Linked DNA regions of Homo sapiens. The protein of the gene in region 2 purifies or fractionates together with the protein of the main gene of each other region. This does not show direct contact. Each region holds a gene or a part of one and is shown on either strand. Other genes may lie near its edges.

Region 1 (7,813 bases), on a different chromosome or scaffold from region 2:
TAACTTCCAATCCCCTCCTTCCATTTTCCTGAGTTTTAGACATTGCCTATTTTGGACATTTCATATAAATGGAATCATATAATATATAGTGCTCTGTGACTGACTTGTTTCAACTAACATGAGGTTCATCCATGTTGTAGCATGCGTCAATACTTAGTTTCTTTTTTTTTTTTTTGAGACGGAGTCTCGCTTTGTCACCCAGGCTGGAGTGCAGTGGCGCAATCTCGGCTCACTGCAAGCTCCACCTCCTGGGTTCATGCCATTCTCCTGCTTCAGCCTCCCTAGCAGCTTGGACTACAGGTGCCTGCCACCATGCCCGGCTAATTTTTTTGTATTTTTAGTAGAGATGGGGTTTCACTGTGTTAGCCAGGATGGTCTTGATCTCCTGACCGTGTAATCCACCTACCTCGGCTTCCCAAAGTGCTGGGATTACAGGCGTGAGCCACCGCGCCCAGCCAGTTTCTTTTTATTGTAGGATAATGTTCCATGGTATGGATATACTACATTTCATTCATTTATCAGTTGTTGGGCATTGGGTTCTTTTCACTTTTGGGCCATTGTGAATAGTGCTGCTGTGAACACTCACATACAAGATTTTGTGCAGTGGTGCAAATGTAGCTCACCGCAGCCCCAACTTCCTGGGCTCAAGCGATCTTCCTGTCTCCTGAGTAGCTGGACTACAGGTGTGCACTGCTGCACCCAGCTAACTTTTGTATTTTTTGTAGAGACAGGTTTCACCATGTTACTCAGGCTGATCTTGAACTCTGGAGCTCAAGCGATCTGCCCATCTCACCTTCCCAAATTGCTGGGATTACAGGTGTGAGCCACTGCATCTGGCTTTATGTTTAACTATTTGAGGAGCTACCAGATGTTTTCTAAAGTGGCTGAACCACCAGTGTATGAGGATGACCATTTCTCCACATCCTTGTCAACATGTGTTATTTTTTTCTTTTTTTAATTTTTTTTTTTTTGAGACAGAGTCTCGCTCTGTCGCTGAGGCTGGAGTGCAGTGGCATGATCTCGGCTCGCTGCAACCTTAGCCTCCTGGGTTCAAGCGATTCTTGTGCCTCAGCCTCCCAAGTAGCTGGGATTACAGGCATGCACCACCGTGCCTGACTAATTTTTGTATCTTCAGTAGAGACAGGGTTTCACCGTGTTGGCCAGGCTGGTCTCAAACTCCTAACCTCAGGTGATCTGCCCGCCTCGGCCTCCCAAAGTGCTGGGATTACAGGTGTGAGCACCATGTCCGGCCTTATTGTTGCTTTTTTGATGGTAGCCACCTGAGCCAGTGTGAAGTGGCATCTTACTGTGGTTTGATTTGCATTTCCCTAATGACTAATGCTGTGGAGCATCTTTTCCTGTGCTTGTTGGCCATTTGCACATCTTCTTTGGAGAATACCTCTGCGAGGCTCCCCACTGGGATGGATATGATCTGAACACCTTGCCAGGCATGTTGACTCTGACACATCTGCCCAGTGCTGGCCTCTCTGACCTCCTCTTCTTCCACACCCACTGTCACTCCCCTGCTCCAGCCACACTGACCTCCCTGGGCCAGACACAGGGTCTTTGCAGGTGCTGTTCCCTCTGCCTGGGACGTTCTTCCCCCTGTGTTACCTGGGGCTAGCTTTCTAGTCTATTAGTTTCCTCCTGTTGCAGTTATAGATTACTACAATATCAGGGGAACCAGCCCGCAGTATTTCAATGTAGGTTCTTTTCTATTTTCCCTAAGTGTCGGCCGGTCTGAGAAATAAAGAGTACAAAGAGAGAAATTTTACATCTAGGCCTCTGGGGGTGCTGTTACACATTGGTAGGACCGTGATGGTGACCCCGAGCCACAAAACCAGCGAGTTTTTATTAGGGATTTCAAAAGGGGAGGGGTGTACGAATAGGGAGTAGGTCCCAGAGATCACATTCTTCAAAGGGCAATAAAAGATCACAAGGCAAAGGTGAAATTAGAATTACTGGTGAAGGTCCATGTCCCACTGGGCACGCATTGTCTTGATAAACATCTTAACAGGAAACAGGGTTGGAGAGCAGACAACCCGTCTGACTAGAATTCACCAGGCTGGAATTTCCCAATCCTAGTAAGCCTGAGGGCACTGCAGGAGACCAGGGCATATTTCATCCCTTATCTCAACTGCATCAGACAGACACCCCCAGAGTGGCCATTTATAGACCTACCCCGGGAATGCGTTCCTTCCCCAGGGTTATCAATTATTAATATTCCTTGCTGGGAAAAGAATTCAGCGATATTTCTCCTACTCACACGTCCATCTATAGGCTCTCTGTGAGAAGAAAAATATGGCTCTATTCTGCCCGACCCCACAGGCAGTCAGACCTTATGGTTATCTTCCCTTGTTCCCTGAACATCACTGTTATTCTGTTCTTTTTCAGGGTGCCCTGATTTCATATTGTTTAAACACCCACGTTTTACAATCAGATTTCATATTTTTCAAACACACGTTTTACAAACAATTTATACAGTTAATGCAATCATCACAGGGTCCTGAGGTGACATACATCCTCAGCTTATGAAAATGATGGGATTAAGAGATTAAAGACAGGCATAGGAAATTATAAGAGTATAAATGTCCATAAAATCTTCACAATTTATGTTCAGAGATTGCAGTAAAGACAGACGTAAGAAATTATAAAAGTATTAATTTTGGGAACTGATAAATGTCCATGAAATCTTCACAAGTTGTATTCTTCTGCCGTGGCTTCAGCCGGTCCTGTTCGGGGCCCCTGACTTCCCACAACACTACAAAGTTGGTGGCCTGTAACACCTCAAGTTTATTATCTCAGCATTCTGGAGGTCAGAAGTCCTAACTCAGGGTGGCTCTAGGGAGGAGTCGGTCTCCTGGCCTTGACTGGCTTCCTGAGGCCTGCAGCATCCTGTGGCTTATGGCCCCTTCCTCCATCATCAAGGCCATGGGTGTGTATCATCACATCTGTCTCTGTGACTTCTGCTTCTACCATCACCTCATCTCTGAATCTGATGTTCTGGCCTCCCCCTTACAGGGACCCTGGTAATTACCTTGGCCAGACCCAGAGAATCCAGGATAATCTCATCTCAGAATCCTTGATTTAATCTAACCTGCAAAGTCCCTTTTGCTATGTAAGGTACCATATTCACAGGTCTCGGGGCTTAGGATGTGGATGTTTTCCAAGGGTATTATTCTGTCTGTCACAGTCCTTCAGGTAAGCTCCTGTGGCACCTCTTTGAAATCAAGAGGACTTTCCTGCCCCTGTTCCTCTCTAGCCCATCACCGTGTTTCATTTCCCTCATTCCGCTTCACAGCCTTTGATGTCCCCTCGTTCCTGAATTTTTTCCACCTGTCTCTCCCTATGGAATGGAAGCCCCGTGCGGGCAGGGGCCTTACCTGTCTAGTTTTTCACTGCTGTATTCCCAGAGCCTGGGACAGTGCCTGGCTAGAGGGCAGGTGCCAGAATGAATGATGAGCTGCCAGGCCTTGGTGTGGTGAGGATGCGGGCTGCCCACTCTTACCCATTGGAGCTGGCCTGGAGCCTTTGGTCAGCCCACTTCCTACACTGGATCAGAGCCAGCGGTGCCTCCGGCCCACTGCTCCTCGCCCAGTCCCAGTGCTCCAGTTCCCTCTTCAGCTGAATGAACGAGTGACTGTGATTGACCCTTCAGTCCTAAAAATTCTTGGCTTCCTGTGGGTCATTTTAGAAAGAAGACAGTCCCTCAGAGCTGATGGTGATACTGGGAGAGTGTAGTGAGAACGCTAAAGTGATTCAGAAGATCCCGCAGCCACAGACAGCCACGCTCTTTCAGATCCGACACTTGTTGGCAGATAATCTGGCCACGCCTAGTTCTTGTCTCCGTGATGGCAGCTGCCTCTGTTGGGCTTTGCCTGAGCCTGTGTAAAAAGGGTTTCCTACAGCTTCAGCCCCAGGTGTGTGCAGAGGGGCTCGGCGCAGGGGCTCTTCTGTGTGTGGCCGTTCCCCGTCTCGTTCACTCATGCGTGTGCCAGCCTTTGTGCACAGCCCTGCTTTGCCCTGCCCAGCTGTGTGACATCAGGCAGGTGACTATCTCTCTCTGAGCCTTTAGTTTCCTCATCCATGAAGCACCCTCACAGTGTTGCTGAGAGGCTTAGGAGACTCAGCTTATTGTAAAGGGTCAAGTTAGGGCTTTCCTCATCCCCCACCCAGGGAGGGGTGTGGGCATTCGATTCTAAGATGGGTCATTTCAGGAGGCTGTGCCATCCCTGCTGTGGAGGACTTTGAAGACAGGCAAGGTTTTCTACTGCCTCGGGTGAACTCCTGCAGGATTCAGGAACTCAAGAGTGATAGTCCCTGTACTGTTAATCATCAGGGATAAAAACATTTTCAGGCCAGGTGCAGTGGCTCACGCCTCTAATTTCAACACTTTGGGAGGCCTAGGTGGGAAAATTTCTTGAAGCCAAGAGTTTGAGACCAGCCTCGTGATCCGCCCGCCTCAGCCTCCCAAAGTGTTTGGATTACAGGCGTGAGCCACTGCACCCAGCCTTTTTTTTTTTTTTGAGACGGAGTCTCACTCTGTTGCCCAGGCTGGAGTCCAATGATGCAATCTCAGCTCACTGCAACCTCGGCCTCCTGGGTTCAAGTGATTCTCCTGCCTCAGCCTCCAGAGTAGCTGGGACTACAGGCGCCCGCCACCACACTCTGCTAGTTTTTGCATTTTCAGTAGAGATGGGCTGGGCGTAGTGGCTCACGGCTGTAATCTCAGCACTTTGGGAGGCCAAGGTGGGAGGACCACGAGGTCAGGAGTTCGAAACCAGCCTGGCCAACATGGTGAAACTCTGTCCCTACTAAAAATATGAAAATTGGCCAGGTGCGGTGGCTCATGCCTGTAATCCTAGCTCTTTGGGAGGCTGAGGTGGGTGGATCATGAGGTCAGGAGATTGAGACCATCCTGGCTAACACAGTGAAACCCCGTTTCTACTAAAAAAAAAAATTAGCCGGGCATGGTGGCAGGCGCCTGTAGTCCTAGCTACTCAGGAGGCTGAGGCAGGAGAATGGTGTGAACCTGGGAGGTGGAGCTTGCAGTGAGCAGAGATCGCACCACTGCACTCCAGCCTGGGCGACAGAGCGAGACTCCGTCTCAAAAAAACAAACAAACAAAAAATTAGCCAGGTGTGATGGCACTCGCCTGTAATCCCAGCTATTCGGGAGGCTGAGGCAGGAGAATTGCTTGAACCTGGGAGGTGGAGGTTGCAGTGAGCTGACATGTGCCATTGCACTCCAGCCTGGGCAACAAGAGTAAAACTCCGACTCAAAAAAAAAAAAAAAAAAAAGGCCGGGCGCGGTGGCTCATGCCTGTAATCCCAGCACTTTGGGAGGCCGAGGTGGGTGGATCACGAGGTCAGGAGTTTGAGCCCAGCCTGGCCAACATAGTGAAACCCCGTCTCTACCAAAAATACAAAAATTAGCTGGGCATGGTGGCACATGCCTGTAGTCCCAGCTACTCGGGAGGCTGAGGTAGGAGAATTGTGTGAACCCAGGAGGTGGAGGTTGTGGTGAGCCAAGATCGCGCCACTGCACTCCAGCCTGGGCAACAGAGCGAGACTCTGTCTCAAAAAAAAAAAAAAAAAAAAAAAAGTAGAGACGGGGTTTCATCATGTCGGCCAGGCTGGTCTCAAACTCCTGACCTCGTTATCCGCTTGCCTTGGCCTCCCAAAGTGCTGGGATTACAGGCGTGAGCCACCGCACCTGGCCAAACTCTATGAAAAACAGGTTTTCATAGAATGTAGATAGTTTAACACTTACAGCTAATACTTATATCATGTTTATTGTGTGTTAAGCACTGTTCTGAGTGCTTCTGTACATAGAACTCATCTAATCCTTGCAACAATCTCGGAGGCAGGTGCTGCTGTTATCCTTGTTTGACAGATGAGGAAACTGAGGCTCAGGGGGAGATGAACACCTTCCCCAAAAACACAGCAAGTAAGCAGCAGAGACAGGATTTGAACCCAGGCCCCGAATCCCAATATCTGGCCTCTGAACCACCACTACTGTCCTGCTGACTTTCGCACATGTTTTCATATCTGTAGAAAAAGTCTGGAAGATTAGACACCAAAATGTAACTGGTGGTGTCCTTGGAGTCCTCCAAGTGGGATAATCATGGGGACTTTCATTTTCTTGTTTCCCAAATATTCTACGATGACCAGCTATTACCTGTCCATGCTGAGAAAAAAGCTGCAGCTTAGCAGAAGGCCTTGGTAGTGACTCATCCCCTCAAGATCTCTATCATGTCCCGACTCTAAAGGGTCTGGTTGAGACTGGGTACGGTGGCTGATGCCTGTGATCCCAGCTCTTTGGGAGGCCAAGGAGGGTGGATCACTTGAGCTCAGGAGTTTGATACCAGCCTGGCCAAGATAGTGAAACTCCATCTCTACTAAAAATACCAAAAAATTAGCCGAGAGTGGTGGCACATGCCCTGTAGCCCCAGCTACTTGGGAGGCTGAGGCAGGAGAATTGCTTGAACCTGGGAGGCATAGGCTGCAGTGAACTGAGATCACGCCACTGCACTCCAGCCTGGGCAGCAGAGCAAGACTCCGTCTGAAAAAAACTAAATAAAATAAATAAAGGGTCTGGTTAAATGCTGATTGGTCAACACCTTAAGATATGGCACCGTCATGGAACAAAAATGTCTAAGCTGGAAGGCACCTTAGAGTTTAATTCCTGTTTCTCTTGTATTACCATCACGAGTAAGGAAAGTTCAGCCCACAGAGAGTCAGGCTGTGGCTGAGTTCCTGCTGCCACCCACGAGGGGTGGCCCTGGGCTTCTGTTTTCCCATTACGTCATGCTGCCTCCCAAGATGGGAGTGTGTGTGGATGACCAATGCTTCGTGGGGGGAGATGGTCCTTCCTTTTCCATCCGTTCTCTTCTCTGTATTGCTAGAAGCAGCCGCTGACCCAGCTGACATCACTTCCCACTGACCAGCAATCTGGCCTGGGGTTTCCAGTGACTAACATAGCAATTTAGGAACTTTCCATCTTAATTGGGCACTTCTCCTGGAGGCTTTCTGTGTGCAGGAGACTGTCACCAGCCCATTTTGTCCAAAGGGTAGGGGATTGTGCAATCTGGTCACAGCACTCACTGGCTCTGAAATTTTCTGTGGTCCCTTGTAACTCTTAGGATCAAGTCCAAACTCCAAAGCTGGGCATTCACTTGAGGGTCTTTGTTATGTGGTCCTGGGCTTCATCTCTTGCCTTCCCTTCTTCTACTCGGCCCACCTATGTTTATATATTTTTTTGTTTTGTTTTGTTTTATTTTTTTGAGATGGAGTCTCACTCTGTTGCCCACGCTGGAGTGCAGTGGCGTGATCTCGGCTCACTGCAACCTCTGCCTCCCGGGTTCAAGTGATTCTCCTGCCTCAGCCTTCCACGTAGCTGGGACTACAAGTGGGCACCACCACGCTTGGCTAATTTTTGTATTTTTAGTGGAGATGGGAGTTCACCATGTTGGCCAGGCTGGTCTCGAACTCCTGAACTTAGGTGATCCGCCCACCTCAGCCTCCCAAAGTGCTGGGATTACAGGCATGAACCACTGCACCCGGCTGATTACTCCTAGTTTTAATAAAAATGCCTTTCTCACTTCAGTAAACCAGTGGAATACTGGTCATAAAAATCCATTTATGGGCCAGGCACAGTGGTTCATGCCTGTACCAAAAAAAAAAATTAGCCAGGAATGGTGGTGTGTCTGTCATCCCAGCTGCTGGGGAGGCTGAGGTGGGAGGATTGCTTGAGCCTGGGAGGCCAAGGCTGTGGTGATCCATGTTTGCACCACTGTACTCATGCCACCTGG
Region 2 (7,760 bases):
GGAAATTAATTATTTTACGTAGCAATGATGTGGACATGTGTGACCCTGAAGAGAATAGTTTTAGTGGAGTAAAGTGGGAGGGGTGCTTCTAATTAGAGTTGGTTTAAGAGAAGATGGGAGGAGAACATTGGACACAGTGAGAATATTCAGCTCGACACTGCAAAGGGGAGCAAAGAATTGGGGCCAAAGACAGAAGGGGGAAGTGGCATCAAAAATTTTGGTTTGCATGGAATACTATGCAGCCATAAAAAATGATGAGTTCATGTCCTTTGTAGGGACATGGATGAAACTGGAAACCATTATTCTCAGCAAACTATCGCAAGGACAAAAAACCAAACACCACGTGTTCTCACTCATAGGTGGGAATTGAACAATGAGAACACATGGACACAGGAAGGGGAACATCACACACCAGGGCCTGTTGTGGGGTGGGGGGAGTGGGGAGAGATAGCATTAGGAGATATACCTAATGCTAAATGATGAGTTAATGGGTGCAGCACACCAACATGGCACATGTATATGTATGTAACAAACCTGCACGTTGTGCACATGTACCCTAAAACTTAAAGTATAATAATAATAAAATTTAAAAAAATTTTGGTTTAAGTTGAAAGAAACAACATCATATTTGTATGCTGATGGAATTGAGGTGGTAAAGAGTGAAAAACTGATCATGTAACAGGGACCAGGGAAAGCATGTGCCCTTGATGCCTTTGAAATGGTAATAGGGATAGGATCCAGTGCACAAACGAAGTATAATGATTTACATAGGACCCTAGATAATTCATCCATGGAAAACACGAAGAAAGAGTATGTTGGCAAAGATGCTAGTAGATAGTTCGATGTAGTAGTGAGATTCCGTGGAAGTTTTTTCCTGATGCATCAGTATTCTCAATAAATATTCTCAAGATAATTGGTGGAGGACAGGATGATGGGAGTTGAGAAAAAAGAAAGTATAGCATAGCTTTCAAGGAGACCAGAAGAATGCATGGGCTAAAGGTGCATAGTATGCTTGTCCAGTGGCATAAAGGACCCACTTGAGAGTCTTGGCCTTGATTTTAAATTGAGTTCAATTAACAGGATTTTGGTTTTCCACCCCGTTCCCCAGCTACACTCAGGTGCATGGGTGTGGAGCCAACTTAGAAAATTGGATTTAATCAGAATTGCAAACTTGCCAAGAGAGCTCAACAAAGTGAGAGAGGAGCAAGGGAATGTAGAGCATATGCAAAGGAGTGAATAAAATAATTGACCACAGACTTAATGGATAAGCAGAAAAGTCAGGATGTCAAGAGGGTGGAGCCAGAAAAGAGGCAGCAAGATTTTGGATTGGATATCTGGTGAAGGGACAGGATTGTTGGGGTCAGAGTACTAGAGGGAATGTGCTAGAAAGACAGGAGGTATGATCAGAGAGTGGATTCATGAAAGAAATTATAGATGGGATGCAGCTATTGATAATGACAAATTCTAGGGGACGCTCATGGGAGTAAGTGTCTGAAATGGAGCATTGGGTGGAGTACAATGTCACCAGAGAAGAGGAGTCAAGGAAATGAGAGGCCAGGGCATTGGAAAGATCACCATCTATTCTACATATATATATATATATATGTGTGTGTGTGTGTGTGTGTGTGTGTATGTTTTAATTTTGTTTCATCAACTTTTATTTTAAGTTCTAGGGTACATGTGCAGGATGTGCAGTTTGTTACATAGGTAAATATGTGCCATTGTGGTTTGCTGCACAGATGATCCCACCACCTAGGTATTAAGCCCAGCATCTATTAGCTATTGCTTCTGATTCACTGCCTCCCCCTACCCCCTCCCCTGACAGGCCCCAGTATGCATTGTTCCCCACCAAGTGTCCATGTGTTCTCATGGTTCAGCTCCCACTTATAAGTGAGAACATGCAGTATTTGATTTTCTGTTCCTGTGTTAGTTTGCTGAGGATAATGGCCTCCAGCTCTATCCCTATCCCTGCAAAGGACATGATCTCATTCCTTTTTATGGCTGCATAGTATTCCATGGTGTATACATACCACGTTTTCTTTATCCAGTCTATCATTGATGGGCATTTGGCTTGATTCCATGTCTTTGCTATTGTGAATAGTTATTCTACATATATTTTAAATCACTGAGAACTAAGATAGGATTAGTACTGGAGAGAGCAACAATGAGCCAGGAGCTAGAGAGTCTAAAAACGAGGAGAAGGAATTGGAGTCGGGGAGATCAGCAGTTGATAGCAACCATGATGATACAACCTGATGATATAAAAATCAAAACTCAAGACAGTTTTAGGAATAGGAAGGCAACATGGTCTGAGAACGACTGCCAACACTGAAAATACAGGAAATTTCACATACTCTAGCTTTCACTTAGGATCCTTGCTTCTTGGTAAATTACAAGATCTGGTAAAGCAGGCCTTTCTGATTGCTTCCCTCATCTGCAGTGATTTCCTGTTTCCTCTGAGTGAGTTTGCCTCCCTGTAGTAGCAATTCAAAAGCTACCAAATAATTAATGGCCTTTTGCCTCTGTTGCTCAGCATGTTCAGGTAGTCCCTTTAAGAGATGTATAGAGGGCCGGGTGTGGTGGCTCATGCCTGTAATCCCAGAACCTTGGGAGGCCTAGGGAGGTGGATCACTTGAGCCCAGGAGTTTGAGACCAGATTGAGCAACATGGGAAAACCCCGTCTCTACAAAAACTACAAAGGTTAGCCAGGCATGGTGGCATGCACCTGTAGTCCCAGCTGTACTGGAGGCTGAGGTGGGAGGATGGCTTGAGCCCAGGGGGTGGAAGTTGCAGTGAGCCGAGATCGCACCATTGCACCCCAACCTGGGCAATCAGAGCGACTAAAAAAAACAAATAAGAAAGAAAGGAGGGAAGGAAGGAAGAAAGGAGGGAAGGAAGGAAGGAAGGAAGGAAGGTAGGTAGGTGTACAGTGTGTACAGATTGACAATAAAACCTTGAACAACGGGATATCGAAATTCTTGCCCACACAGTATGGGCTTTGCCAGTTTTCAGATACATTTTTATGAAGTATTTTCGCTGGCAAAACCATTCAGGTAGGGGCATGAAATGATAGTGTTTCATCACTCGTGATCTCTAGGGGCAGCTATTCCAAAGACTACAATCTGAGAGGTTTCAAAACACCTCTGGTGTTTTCACTTGATGGCCACTGCCCACTCTTCCAGTCACTAAGGCTGAGATTTTTCTCACCACTTTCAAAACAACTTTTTGTCACTGGTAACATGCCTCATGTGACCTAGAAGATTTTGAAACAACAATTTTACTTAAACTCCGTGAAGATTTCAAAACAACAATTTTACTTAAACTCCATGTTGAAGGCAAAAAGGAAGATTGTGTGAAGCACTTTGAGGAAGGAAAAAATGATGGAACGATATTTCATCAAGGAAGCCCATGAGGAAGAAAATTTATTAAAACCAAGTAGGTGTATGGAGGAGAGGCCGCCTCGTGAAGAAAACGAACATAATTTTACGCTGATTTGGTGTCTTTTCTGTTTTTCTCTTGTTGGTATCTACATTCATCTTTTCCAATAATAATCCCATATATGTACATTTTTATCTGTTTAAATTCAGTAAAAGTTGGGAGGAAAATGTGTCAAAACTTTTAGAGTGTGATGGGCTGAGTGGGGTTGTGAGTGATTATCTTCTTTTTTCAGTTTTTTTCTGGGTTTTCCAAGTGTTCCTCGATGAACATGGATAGTTTTTCTGACAGGATAAAAAAGAAGTAGTCCGGGACAGTGGCTAACACCCCGAATCCCAGCACTTTGGGAAGCCGGAGGTGGGAGGATCGCTTGAGGCCAGGAGTTTGAAACCAGCCTGGGCAGCATAACGACACTCCCTCTCTACGAAAAACGAAAAAAAATAATTAGCCGGACGTGGTGGCGTGCGACTGTGGTCCCAGCTACTCGGGAGGCTGAGGTGGGAGGATCGCTTGAGCCCAATAGGTGGAGGCTCCGTGAGCTGAGATAGCGCCACTGCGCTCCTGCCTGGGCGACAGAGTGAGAACCTGACTCAAAACAAAGAAAAAAGGAAGAAAAGAAAGGAAGGGAAGAAGGAAGGAAGGGAGAAGCTTTCAAAAATAAACTTTTGTAAGAAGTAATGACACCGCTAGCCGTCCACACCAGGAGACCGCCTAGCCGTGGGGCACGGTGGGCTCCTGGGAGCTCTGAGCTCTGGGCTTTCTCCAGTTCGCACTCTGCTTGTCTCGGCAGCTCCGTCCCCACCGCAGAGGTGTGAAGGGGCGCAAAGCCAGCGAAGGGAGAACCCGGGTCGGGTAACCCCCAGGCCTGGCCAGGCGGACGCAGGGGCATCTCGGGCGAGGCGCGCCTTGCGTCACGTGGGCACCGCCCCTGCAGTGACCGGAGAACGGCGTGTTCCTAGGGCTCTGCTGCCGTCGTGGAAGCAGGATTTCCGCGGTTGTGTAACGGCCTGTCGCAGGCGTGCAGGGACCTGGACTCCGCCTCGTCCCCGGGGCTCGGGCAGCCGAGCCATGGCGGGGAACTGTGGGGCCCGCGGCGCGCTGTCGGCGCACACGCTGCTGTTCGACCTGCCGCCCGCGCTGCTCGGAGAGCTCTGCGCTGTTCTGGACAGCTGCGACGGCGCGCTGGGCTGGCGCGGCCTGGGTGAGTCGGCGGGGACCGGCCGGGGGCGGCGGGGGAGCCCAGCGCGCCGCGGGGCCCGCTCGGCGTCGCCCTGCATGGCTGGGGTCCCTCGCGGGGCTGGCGCGGCCTCCGGGAAGTTCCCGCCAGGGAGCCGGCCCCCTCCTTTCCTGGGTTGGATGCAGAGACTCCCTGGGACCCAGATGCCTTCCCTCCCTTCTCTTTCAAAGAATTTTGGGTATCGCTGCAAAGTCAAGGGAGCCGAGGCCTGGGAAAGACAGATAACCAGCGTGAAAGCATCTTCTGTTCGTCCGCGATGCCACCCTCACTGGGTTCGCAATGTATGATGTCTTCTGGTCCTTGCAAAATCACCCCAGAACATCATTTTAGTATTGAGACATTTTTAGAACTTTGAGATACTTATCCTTTGGTGTTTTCAATGCATCCCTAAGCCCCTAACTTAATTACAAGTGAAATGCTAAAGTAAACTACGGTTTGCAATGAACGCGGCTCCTAATTTTCTTAATTAAATCTTATTTACCCAATTTCGTTGAATGAAGGTTTATGCTAAAGGGTGGCTTTTTATTTTAATCTAAAAAAATTGGCTTCAGAACTGTATTTTATGCAGACATTGGAAAGTTGAGCAACTGCCTGCTGGAAGTGTTGAGTGTAGCCAGAGATAATTCGGACAAAAATCTTCGTTTTGTTAAGTACAGGCATTTTTGGTTAGATTTGATATTCCACAATGTCATGTTTAATGTTTATTGAAAAGAATCATGATTATGTCAAAATAACTTAGCTTTAATGGTCTGAAATAGGATTTTTCTTACCAGGACTAGCAGAAGGCCTAAGAGGAGAGTTTTCTTTGTTACTGATGAACAGTATGGTGACAGTCTTTGAATTGTAGCAATGGGCTTCTGGTTATACAAAAAATGTTTATATATTTTAAGCTCTGTAATTTTAAGTTATGGCCCTTAAGAAAAAAAAAAAAGTCTGATTTCTAGAAAACGAGATTTCCAGTGTGCATTTGAGGGATTTTGAGGGATAAGGTCACTTCCCCATCAGATCTTTTTGAGATGGATTTTGGCGTGGACAGTATTTATACCCGTTGATTTCCTAGAGTTACTGACTTTGAGAAAGAAAAGTGTTTTTAGTCCAGTTTAATGTTGGTGAATGGGGCCAGGTGGGTGTGGTAAATTAGTGAGGCAGATTATTCTCTCTCTTTCTGTTGATAGCATTGAAATCCAGATATTCATGCTTTACATGGCTTGTCTCATATAACTTCTCCAATTACTCTGTGAGTCATTATCATCGCCAGTGTTTTTTTAACAGGTCAGGAAACTGGTACAAATTGGTTAAGTAACTTGTTCAGGTTCACCAGCTGGAAATGGAAGAGCCAGGATCTGAACCATGGTAGTCTGGATCCAAGGCTTATGTCCTTAACCCCAGCTACTCTACACTTCTCCCCTTACTGCTGTGTTCTTTCTGGCCACATCTAACAGCCTCCCTAAAGTACAGACATTTCTGGCATCAAAGAACAATTCAGTGATCCATTTCAAGCATGCAGCCCTATTTTCCTAGTGGTGAAAATGAATGAGGACCACCCAAATGAGAACAAACAAAAGCTATTTTTTTCAAAGCAAGGGAGCCAGCACCATTGCTTGTGTTTGGCAGAGACTCAAAAGCAGACAGAGGATGGAGGAGGGTGGGAGAAGAAGGCTTCAGCTGTGTCCTGATTGGAGGCTGTTGATATGGGGAAGCTGTAGTTGAGCTACCTAAAAGGGGGTATTTTGTGTGTTTGTTTAGGGGTACATAATTGGCTTTCTCTGGTTGGCCCTAAGTTGGAAGTAGGAGCAAAAATTGAGGAAGTGGTCAGTAATTATTCAAGTCCTGGCCATTTGAGACAGGTTGCTACAGGGGTTCTTGTTTGGCTGCCTGGGCTAGTTGCTACAGTTTAACCCAGTTACTGATAGTTTAACTTGTTAGATACTGTAGACGGTAGGTTGGTTTCTTGGACTGGTTGATGTACATTGCCTGCAGAGTTCTATTTTTATATATAAGCTGGCCATTGTCCCTTTGTGTATTCATTCTCTCACAGGGAAAGGGTCTAAAATGTTTACTCCATGATACTTCAGCTGTAATTCATTGTGCAGGTGGTCATGCCTACTGACTGCCTGGACTACTGAGCTGGCCCTGACCAGGTGCTGCACAAGTTCTTGGCTCAGCAAGAAGGCAAGGCTAGCCCAGTTCAGGGTGTTGAGGCAACTGCCTGTGCTAAACATGCCGAGTTTTCCTGTGGGCACAGCGAAGGGAGAAAGAGGGGAAGAGGTGCAGGTAGGGAAAACTTGACCTTCGAGAGGGGAAGGAGAGTGACAGAGGACTGAATCAAAGAGGCAGTCCTTTGTATGCTCAGGACAGCTGACAGCCCAAGCTTAAATGTAGAAAACAACTGTAATATACTAAGTAAAGCTCTCTCGAGCCGATCGTGATTCTTGATGACGGTGAGTGTCAGGTTATGTTTACAAAGGCAGCTCATATAGCAGCCTATATGATATGACCAGTGTGTGCAGGATAAGGTAAGCCAGTCATTCACAAACACAAATCACCTATGCAGTCTTTTAAATACACAGATGCAGGTCCCACTCCTAGAGCTGCTGATTCAGGAAGTCTGGGTTGAGGGTCCAGCTTCTTTCATTTTTTGTCAAGCCCCAGGAGTGAGTCTGAGGCACAACCTGATTGGTAAGCCATTGCTTAGGCCAAATTCTCTTTTTTAATAGTGTCTTCATATAACAGATATTTTACTACATTCTTTCATTACTTCATTTAATTACTTTTATTTTTAAACATATTCTACATAGTACTCTTCAAATCACTTTTGTCAAGTATTGTTATTAAAAATAATGTAATCACAAGATAATATATTCTGTGGTTATCATTGATGACTTTATGGCTTTTAGTGAAAGCAAGAGCCCAAAAGCCCAAATGAAATATGTTGTTTACGTTACAGACATGATAACGTAGTACATACAGAACCTCTGGAGACAACTCATCTGATTACATTACCATAGATTGGTATTTAAATTAAATTATTTGGAGCAGCTGACACCGTAAAAACCTCTCAACACTTACGATGTACTGAGAAACGCTT

The links.
Region 1: the proteins of IRAK3 (region 2) and IRAK2 purify together in Homo sapiens (co-immunoprecipitation; 2 studies listed by BioGRID and IntAct, with this or other methods). This does not show direct contact.

Annotation. Positions count from the first base shown.
Region 1 is NC_000003.12:10,167,258-10,175,070, forward strand, and holds part of IRAK2 (interleukin-1 receptor-associated kinase-like 2), read left to right. Parts: intron 1-7,813. UniProt on the Homo sapiens protein: Binds to the IL-1 type I receptor following IL-1 engagement, triggering intracellular signaling cascades leading to transcriptional up-regulation and mRNA stabilization.
Region 2 is NC_000012.12:66,184,797-66,192,556, forward strand, and holds the start of IRAK3 (interleukin-1 receptor-associated kinase 3), read left to right. Parts: upstream 1-4,417; 5' UTR 4,418-4,503; coding exon 4,504-4,636; intron 4,637-7,760. UniProt on the Homo sapiens protein: Putative inactive protein kinase which regulates signaling downstream of immune receptors including IL1R and Toll-like receptors.